Regions from separate parts of the Homo sapiens genome. Here region 1 is linked to region 2. A link means that fine-mapping ties the variant in region 2 to the expression of a gene that starts in the linked region. Tissue or cell type: whole blood. Region 2 holds a variant in brackets; the other region holds the start of a gene. All regions are shown on one strand. Distances are between the middles of the regions.

What was found. PIP is the estimated chance that this variant, and not a neighbour inherited with it, causes the effect.
Region 1: EIF4E starts here. The variant in region 2 is fine-mapped to the expression of EIF4E in whole blood (INTERVAL, PIP 0.99).

The regions. Positions count from the first base shown.
Region 1 is chr4:98,926,713-98,931,936 of GRCh38, reverse strand. EIF4E (eukaryotic translation initiation factor 4E) reads left to right here and starts at 2,804. Exons shown (of 7, transcript NM_001968.5): 1 at 2,804-2,842. The coding sequence starts at 2,825. RefSeq lists an enhancer at 1,211-2,410.
Region 2 is chr4:98,952,451-98,957,674 of GRCh38, reverse strand. It overlaps the pseudogene FAM177A1P1. Among named protein-coding and RNA genes, the nearest start is that of EIF4E, 26 kb to the right of the region's middle. The variant A/C (reference allele first, on the strand shown) is at 2,969.

The sequences.
Region 1 (5,224 bases), 26 kb after region 2:
TTGATTAACAGAAAATTTAATAAAAATGGAAACTGTTGTTTAAAAAAAGTTTTAAGAACATCACTGGCTTTCAGTCCTATAGGTATTTTCTTGCCAATCTCATTGATTTTTTGCTGTTATATAACAGCTTCATGAAAATAGGACATCTGGCCAGGAATGGTGGCTCATGCCTGCAATCTCAGCACTTTGGGAGGCCCAGGTAGGGGGACCGCTTGAGCCCAGGAGTTTGAGACCAGCCTGGGGAACATAGCTAGACGCTCCTGTCTCTGCAAAATATAAAAAAATTAGCTAGGCATGGTGGCCCATGCCTGTAGTCCTAGCTACTTGGGAAGCTAAGGTGGGAGGACCCCTTGAACCCAGAAGGTCAAGGCTGCAGTGAGCCATAATCATGCCACTGCACTCCAGCCTGGGTAACAGAGCAACACCCTGAAAAGACAAAAAGAAAGGAAGGAAGGAAGGAAGGAAGGAAGGAAGGAAGGAAGAGAGAGAGAGAGAGAGAATGGGAGGGGAGGGGAGGGAGGGGAGGGGAGGACAGGGGAGGGGAGGGGAAGAGAAGGGAAGGGAAGGGAGGGGAAGGGTAGGGAAGGGAGAGGAAGGGTGGGGAAGGGTGGGGAAGGGGAAAATAGGACATCTATGCTGTCTTTTTCTCTTCAAAGAAGGTAACCTGACACCACTTCTAACCAGCAGAAAATAACAACGCGGTCAACAGAATTATTTTGGATAGTCTAAGTAACAGTAGATAGTCTCTGTAAGTAGAAATCCACTTATCCGTTTATTATCATTTTTTTTTTTTTTTTGGAAATGGAGTCTCACTGTGTCGCCCAGACTGGAGTGCAGTGGCGGGATCTTGGCTCACTGCAACCTCCACCTCCCAGGTTCAAGTGATTCTCCTGCCTCAGCCTCCTGAGTAGCTGAGACTACAGGCAGGTGCCACTATGCCTGGCTAATTTTTGTATTTTTAGTAGAGACAGGGTTTCACCATGTTGGTCAGGCTGGTCTCGAACTCCTGACCTCAGGTGATCCGCCCGCCTTGGCCTCCCAAAGGGCTGTGATTACAGGCGTGGGCCACTGCGCCTGGCCTGTTAATTCTATCTACTTTAAAACCTAGTAGAGCTAAGCCCACTAGACAAAAGCTTTCATTAATCACTTCTGATATTCAGGTAAACCAAAACATATGAACAGGCAATGGCTTTGAGTTCTCATACAGCCTCAATTATGTGTTAGTCAACTCAAGCATCCATTATGTACTCAATAATAGGTATGACACAGCTCTGGACCTCATTAACACTATAAGCAGACAGGCACAGGCAGCCTGCATACACTCCTTTTCCTGGTGTCAACATTATTTAAAAGCATGGGAAATAGTAATGAGACAGTGTCTTCTTCATTAGAACCTTAGGAGTCTACTAGATTTCTTCATCTCTATTTGTTGTTATTAGTAGCCAAACTGTGCAAAAAACACGGTCTTGAGAAATGACAGCACAGTATCTTAGAGGGAAAGGAAATGTAGGATGCCAGTGTGGGGACAAATTTCTGATTGCCAGTGATTGTTGTGAGCATAACAATAATTTCATGAACATTAAAGCCTCTATTGAGGGCAGCTGCAGTTGTAAAGGAAAAAAAATGGTCCTGAACATTTAAAACTACACTGGTGTACATCATAATCAAACAAAGTAAACAGAAAAAAATTTAAACTTTGCTAAAAAAAAAAAGCAGAAGCACTTGATCTTTAGGAAGGCACGCAGTTGCTTATTATGAATCATTTCTAGAGTCCGATGCATTTTCAAAGCCGGTTACAGTCATTACGAAGCACACCCTTGTGAGGTAAGTGTATCATCACCTTTGGTTCATAAATAAAAAAGCTGAGACGCCGAGCGATTAAGTCACTCGCCTAAGGAGAATGAGTCAACGTCAAGAGTCATAGTTGACCCGGCCTAAAGACTCCAGACCATCAGTCCAGGGCTTAGTCAGCGGGGCCCGGAGTGGCTTCCCTGGCTGGCATCTGGACTTAGGCTATTTCCGTGCACGTAAAAGCGGAATATTGGAACGGTTGCACAGAACTTCCAAATAATTTTTACCGCCACGCAAGATTTAGCCCTGAGGTCTTAATCTCAGGATTTGGGACAGTAAAAGCTGTCGTCCCTCCCCCTCGTCCAGCCGGTGGCAAGCGGGTACTGCGGGCGGTTCCGTCCGTCCCCTTTCGCAGAAATGGCAACGAATGACCACCAGCATTAGCTGAGCCAGGGGACGTGGGAGGGTTGATTGCCTAAACGACTCTGCATCGCCGCCTCTTTTTGAAACTAAGAGAAAATGGTGGGAGATCAAAAGAAAACTAAATAAACACACAGGCAACTTGTCCTGGGACCTCAACTAAGCAAATGAAGCCTTATTGTGTGTGCTGAGCCTGCAGTTCCCAACCTTCCGGGGAAGATGGGAGGACAGGGCGACAAAGGGCACAGTAGGCTTGCCTGGCAGTAAGTGTGACCGCAGCTATCCAGGCGGAAGAGCAGAGGACTGAAACCACCCTCCAGCAAGCGAGTGTCCGCCGCGTTGAGAACCGCGCACCCTACCCATCGGCCACGTGACCAGTCCTTTTTAAAAAAAATTTCTTTACCTTAAAAAAAAAAAAAAAAAAAAGGTGGGGGAGAGACTCCACTTCCCAGAAGCCTCTCGTTACTCACGCAGCCGCAGTCTTGCGCAGGTGCCGCCAGGGCCAAACGGACATATCCGTCACGTGGCCAGAAGCTGGCCAATCCGGTTTGAATCTCATTTTTTTCCTCTTACCCCCCCTTCTGGAGCGGTTGTGCGATCAGATCGATCTAAGATGGCGACTGTCGAACCGGTGAGTATTGCCTTTGGCCCCCACCCCCACGGGTCCCCGCGCTCCGTCTTCCTTCTGACTGGGGGACTCCGCGGGACGGCGTTCCCGGCGCGCACTGTACCCCTTGCCGCCCCTTCCCCTTCATGTTGGACCTGACCTCCCGCGGACAAGTGGGGACGTCCCGGAGGATGGCCGAGGCGGCGTGTAGCGCACACTTTCTGGTGGGGGCCCGAGAACTGGGGGAGCGGTGTGGGGGAGGGGCGGCGTGGCGCCTCCTGCGGAACCGCGAGGTGTCTACAGGGTGGAGGGTAGCTGGGGTTCTGGGCTGGGTATGCGAGGATGGTGTCTTCATGATAGGAAGGCGCAGGGCCGGCTCCCAGCGAGTACTGGGATCCGCAGGCAGGGTGGGCGGCGAGCCGGCCTGGAGTGAGATGGAGGAGGGAGCCCTGGAGCAGCCTTTCCCTCCCTGCAGAACCCCAGCTCCGGGGCTCGGGTGCGGGGCGCGCGCACGTCTTCCTTAGACCGGTGGACTGGGGAGCTGGTGGGCGAGTGTTGCCGGAGGGTGGGTTAGGCGGGAGTGGTGCCGCGGCACGCGCGGAGGAGCTTCGACCTCGCTTAGGGGAGTTGAGAGGGGCGAGCGTCTGTTAATCCAGCGCGCCGGAGAGTTGCCGGTGTTTGCGCCAGGGGAAGCGAGAAAGGTCTGGGGTGGGAAGGAACACTCGTGTGTCACGGTGAAGCTCTCCAAGTAGAATGAGGGATGGTGGTGGTGAGAAGGGGTATCACATTGTCCTCGCCCCTCCATGCTTGGGACTGGGCTGTCATGGAGGAGGGAAGGGGGAGGAGCGAGGCCTACAGATCGCTGTAGCCGGTCGGCTTGCCGGCCGGACCTGCTGCATTTCACACGCGCCCGTCTTCCATTCATTCATCCTTTCCGCGTAGTGCGCACGCCTCAGAGAATGCGAATGGGTCTCAATCCCTCTGTTCTTCCGAGTCTTTATCTCCTGGAAGATTTCTGAGACGCAGTTTATTGGAAATAGAAACTTTTAAATTTACTTTTCCATTTGACTTTTTTTTTCTCTTTATCTATGCTACAGACTTTCATTTCAATTTAGGCACCATTTTAAACTTAACTGAAGCAAGCTGGTCCCAGGGTAGGTTTGTAGTTAATCTTTAAGCAGAGGGTATATTTTTCATAATTTGGGTTTGCCAGGACTGGCTCACTGAAACTTCTGGGCCCTGTTGCCTTTTTAGAAACGACACAGCTAAGTGAAGATATCTTGTGTGCATAATGGGGTTTATTAGCAATCAGAAAACCTTTCACACTCTGGAACCAGCTCTAGACCTTGGTTGCCAGATACTTTTGTGTATCTTTTCATGGTAGCTTGTGGTTTTGCTAATGGTTTACCAGTTTGCTTTGACTTTTAAAGACTTTTTTTTTTTTTTTTTTTTTTTTTTTTTTTTGAGATGGAGTCTTGCTTTGTCGCCCAGGCTGGAGTGCAGTGGCGTGATCTCGGCTCACTGCAACCTCCGCCTCCGGGTTCAAGCGATTCTCCTGCTTCAGCCTCTTGAGTAGCTGGGATTACAGGTGCGCACAACCGTGCCTGGCTAATTTTTGTATTTTTAGTAGAGACGGGGTTCCACCATGTTGGCCAGGCTGGTCTGAAACTCCTGACCTCAAGTGATCCTCCCGCCTCAGCCTCCCAAAGTGCTGGGATTACAGGCGTGAGCCACAGCACCCGGCACTTTTAAAGACTTTTATAAAACTATTTCAAAAACTCTTATAGACTACACAAAGGCTTATTTTTCATTGCGTTGGTGTAAACTATCCTTACCTTGTCAAAATTCAAGGCAGCTTCTCTGCTTGCTTACTTGTTTTTTTATTGGCACCAGTTTTCATTTATGTTCCTGGGAATTAAATTGACTGAAAAACTCATAAGTTGTTGCTACAGTTAACTGACTTTAGGACATTAATATTACATAACACTAATGAAGAATAAGTATGTAAAATATACATTTTAAACCCCTTGACAGGTTCTGATGTCCACTTTTGTCTAGATCTGTTCCTACCCCACTACACTAGTGTCAGTAAAAAGCATTACATCTGGTAATAGGGGCAAGGCTACGAGACTGTAAACTATAAAACAATAAGGAGTTCTGTGAGGTTTCTGTCACATTTAGGTCCCTTGAGTTTTGCAGAGTTTATGCAGTTTTGTTTCAGCAGCACAGAGCGGAACTGCAAAGTGATGAAGGACTATATTTTGAGTTAGTAAATATTAATAGCTCCTGATATATCCAGGGTGTTGTACCAAGTGTTCTTTAGGATACAAAGTTATACAAGATGTGAGTCTTGTTGAATGTAAACCCTTAAGGAACTTAATTCCTAGGGATGTGGTTAGTGATACA
Region 2 (5,224 bases):
TCCCACCTGGGCGACAGAGCGAGACTCCGTCTCAAAAAAAAAAAAAAAAAAAAAAAAAGAAAGTGTAAAGCTTAAATCTTTTTTTCCCATCTTACTCCTTTTATTATACAGCAAAACACCCTTAGTGTGAAATTAATGGTTAGATATATAAATATGAGGGATAACATGAGAAAATCTAGGAGAAAAAAAAAATCCTCATTTAAATCTGAGATTGTGGGATTATCAGCTCCAATTAGCCTTAATCAGCAACTTACCTATTTTTATTTATTTATTTTTTGTAACAGAGTTTCACTCTGTCACCCAGGCTATAGTGCAGAGGCATGATCTCAGCTCACTACAACCTCCGCCTCCCAGGTTCAGGCTATTCTCCTGCCTCAGACTCCCCAATAGCTGGGATTACAGGCACCTGCTACCATGCCTGGCTAATGTTTGTATTTTTAGTAGAGACGGGGTTTCGCTACATTGGCCAGGCTCGAACTCCTGGTCTCGAACTCGCGACCTCTGGTGATCCACCTGCCTCGGCCTCCCAAAGTGCTGGGATTACAGACATGAGCCACTGCGCTTGGCCTCTATTTTTTTTTTTTAAATGCACAAATAAGACAACCTTGATAATTTAACTTTTAAATTGGCAATTGAAGCTCTAGGGTATCCTTAACTTTTTTAAAAGATCATTTTAAACCAAAGCACTAATTCAACACACAGCAGAAATGGTACAAATTTCAGATTTGGCTTTTGCTGAATAGAGCCTAAGAATGAAGAAACATTTCTCTTTTCCAGATTATTTAAGTAATTTAAAATATAAATAATTGCATTAAGTCTCACTGAGCAGAGAATGTGAAAGTTCCTGGTATAAAAAAATAAAACCCTTAGGGTTTGAAGTTTGATAGTCATTTCATTTTGTAGTAGAAAAGAGACGAGATTTTGTTTGCTTTCCATAATTACTTCACTGTCTCCCTCCATTTCAAAATTGAGATTCCCAAATGAACTGAATACCACTGTCCCTGGTTGATCTGTCTGAACAATGGAATCAGTCTGCAATTTATTCTGTTGGGGTTTTTTTTTTTTTTTTTTTTGAGACAGAGTCTCACTCTGTCATCAGGCTGGAGTGCAGTGGCACAATCTCAGCTCACTGCAACCTCTGCCTCCAGGGTTCAAGCGATTCTTCCGCCTCAGCCTCCCAAGTAGCTGGGACTACAGGGGCGCACCACCACACCCAGCTAATTTTTGTATTTTTAGTAGAGATGGGGTTTCACCACGTTGACCAGGATGGTCTCGATCTCTTGACCTCGTGATCCGCCAGCCTCAGCCTCCCAAAGTGCTGGGATTACAGGCGTGAGCCACCACACCTGGCCTTATTCTGTTGATATTGTCTTTCTGCTCATACAGACATTCTCCTCCTCTTCCTCCTCCTCCTCTGTTGGTAATGTCTTTCTGCTTCTGTAGACATCCTATTTTTCTCCTCCTCTTCCTTCACTCCACCTCCTCCACCTCCTTCTTCTTCTGGGTCAAGAGTAGGCAAAACATCTTTCCTCTCTAGGCCATCAACTTCATCTTCATCTGTGCTGTATTCCTTCATTGTGTCATCACTAACAAAGAGGATGGCTCTCCTTGGGACTTTCTTCTTTCCTTGTATCACTCCCAGTTCTACATTTTCAAAGCCTCTTTTGTCACTCATCCAATCTCATATTTCCCCATGAGATAAAATTTGGTTTATGGTTGTCCTGACATCAACGGTTCCTTTTGGACCATCTAAAGTTTAAATCTTTTAAGTGGCGTTTTATGGGAACACATCAGAGGACAAATTGACTAAACAAGTCAGAGATGGCTTCATGGAGAACGCGAAAATTAAGCTGAGCTCAAAGGCCAAATAAACAGCAAGCGGGCAAATATTCAGGTATGTAGAGATTTAATCTGTGATTTGAGATGAAGAGTAGGCTGAGTGTGGTGGCTCACGCCTGTAATCCCAGATTTTGGGAGGCTGAGGTGGGCGGATCACAAGGTCAGGAGATCAAGACCATCCTGGGTAACACAGTGAAACCCCATCTCCACTAAAAAAAAAAAGAAAAAAAAATTAGCCGGGTGTGGTGGCATGCGCCTGTAGTCCCAGGTGCTCAGGAGGCTGAGAGAGGAGAATCCCTTGAACCCAGGAGGCAGACATTGCAGTGAGCCGAGATTTTGCCACTGTACTCCAGCCTGGGAGACAGAGTGAGATTCTGTCTCGAATGAATAAATAAATAAATAAATAAGTAAATAAATAAATAAATAAATAAAATAAGATGGAGAGTAAATCGAATGGAGGATGTGCCTGACACTGTCCATTTAGCCTTTGGCTTCCCTCCCCACTGTGCTCCATTCTTCTCCATAATGCTTTGTGCCCTGGGAAGCTTAACTGCATTGGTGGACTTGTTTATCCTCTGGATTCGAGATGGCTTTAGCTAGCTTGGAGATAAGAGGGTGGGGAGAGAGTGAAGTATTCGAGATCTTTATTCCTTTGGCCCCTTCCCTACCATGTTTCCATGGCTCACTCACTCTCTCTACTGAAGTCCGCAACTTTTGTCTAGAGTCCTGCTCTGTACACTTCTCTCTCTGGTTTCTGGCAGAGTTCCTTCCCCTCAGCCTTCATACCTAGATATTCGGTTGCAACAGTCCCCCACCCACCCTAAAGCCAGCCTGGGAATACTATACCATGTCCTATTGGCTCCCTAAACTTTGCCCATGTCTGCAAATAATTACCTTACTAAAAATCTCCTATAATTACGCAGGTTAATATGCCATCCATTTATTGCTGTTACCTTAATACTGTTGCTGTGATTACAGGAATAATTTAATATGCCTCTACATTTTCATAATTGTGAAATCACAATGTATCTTATCACTGATGCGTAGGTTCCATTGTGCCTCTTGGTCCCTGACCCAAAAGCTTTTGCTAAATCAATGACATATAATCATAATATATAGTCTATAATCA[A/C]TGGCATGTTAGAATTGAGGAACTATGGTATATAGTGAAAGATACTCTAGTGAAGGGCTGAAAAGGGCCATCTCATGTTCTTGTGGAAAAAAAGACCATTTGAATTTTACTCCATAGGCAACCGAGAGCAATTCCTTGGCTTCTAGAACAGAGTGCCATAATTAGGCTTGTGATATTAAAAAAAAATAAACTTTCGACAGTACGAAGAGTGGACTGAATATAGAGGTCTGAATACAGGAAGGCCAATTAGGCTGCTGTTGCAATAATTCAGATGAAAAGCAGTGAAGGTCCAAGTAGGGCAATTAGAGTAGAAATAAAGAGGATGAGATAGATATAACAGCCTGATGAGCTGCTACAGTTGCAAGAAAAAGTGTTTAAATCATGATAGCTCAAGTATTGGGTTTATGACCTACAGGAAATCTGAAAGGATAGGTACAGACCCACAAAGCTTCCTTCTCCTAGGTGCTAGGAACAATAGCACCATCTACGTGGAAACTAGGGAAGAGTTCTCAACCTTATACTAATAACTTTTTTTTTTGAGATAGGGTCTCTCTATATCATCCAGGCTGGTCTCAAACCGCTGGGCTCAAGTAATCCTTCCAACATACCAAGAACTATGAAGGCCATAAGACAATAACAATTAAAACTGGATGATAGACCGGGCATGGTGACTCATGCCTTCAAAACCCAGCACTTTGGGAGGCTGAAGCAGAAGGATCACTTGAGCCCAGAAGTTCAAGACCAGCTTGGGCAACATAGTGAGACTCCGTCTCTATTCTAAAAAAATGGAATAAAAATAACATAAAAAAATGAAACTGGATGATGGGTAAATGAGATTTATTGTTATTCCTCCAGCTTTTGTTTAATGTTTGGAGTTTTTTATATTAAAAAATTAAAAAAATTTTTTTAAACTTTGAGAAACATCTCTCAAATACCGAAGAATTTGGACTAAATTGAAGAAAAAATAGAGAGACAAAAACATTAGAGGTTAGGAACACAGTCTCTGAGCAAGACTGAGTTCATTTCTAAATCAGAAACCAAGACCCACAAAATACTCAAGCTTCCCATAGCTTCAGCCCTCTTCCTCTCTCTCTTAAGCCATAGAAGGGGATAATCCTAATTCTAAAACTTACAAAGCCTTGACTATGTACCAGGAACCATTTCATACATCTTACAAGCATTAACTCATTCAATCCTAACTAGTCTCCTGTTACAGATAAGGAAACTGAGCCACAGAAAAGTTCAGAAGTCCAAGGGCAGCTGGGCGCAGTGGCTCACACCTGTAATCCCAGCACTTTGGGAGGCTGAGGCAAGTGGATCATGAGGTCAGGAGATCGAGACCATCCTGGCCAACATGATGAAACCCCATCTCTACTAAAAATACAAAAATTAGCTGGGTGTGGTGGTGCGTGCCTGTAATCCCAACTACTTGGAAAGCTGAGGCATATGAATCACTTGAACCCAAAAGGCGGAGGTTGAGGTTGCAGTGAGCTGAGATCACGCCACTGCACTCCAGCCTGGTGACAGAGCAAGACTCTGTCTCAAAAAAAAAAAAAAAAAAAAAAAAGAAAAGAAAAAGAGAGAGAGAGAAAAAAGAAGTCCAAGGGCACACAGATGGTAAGCAACAGACACAATCAGACATTCTGGTTCCAGAAGGTGAGTTTGTACATACTACATATCACAGAGTATAGTGTAGATGTTATTACAAAGAGAATATACCCATTTCTAATATTATGGTACAGTTTACAGTTCCCAGGTAAAAAGAGAGTGGACAGTCAAGCAGAATTCACCAACACTTTTTGGGTGAAAAGCAGATTTGGACAGAACTGCTCATAAATGAACCATGGAAAAAGTCTACTATAATAAACAAGTACACAAACTAAAAGAAAGAAAACATCATGGTACTATTGGATAATAGTTCAGAAAAAATACAGGTTTTTACATAAAAGTTTTTATATAACACATTATATAAGGGTTTTTATATAACACATTAAACCAAAAAAATTGCTAAATAATCCAAAGATTTAAACTTAAGATCTAAAAACATGAAACTGCATAAAAAATAATTAAATACACACACACACTCTCAGTGTGCAGATGGGTGGATTAAAAAAAAATATATAAATAGGGCCAGGTGCAGTAGCTCATGTGTAAGTGCCTGTAATCCTAGAACTTTGGGAGGTTCACAAGGCAGGAGGATCACTTGAGCCAGGAGTTCCAGACCAGCCTGGGCAAGACAAGGAGATTCTGTCTCTA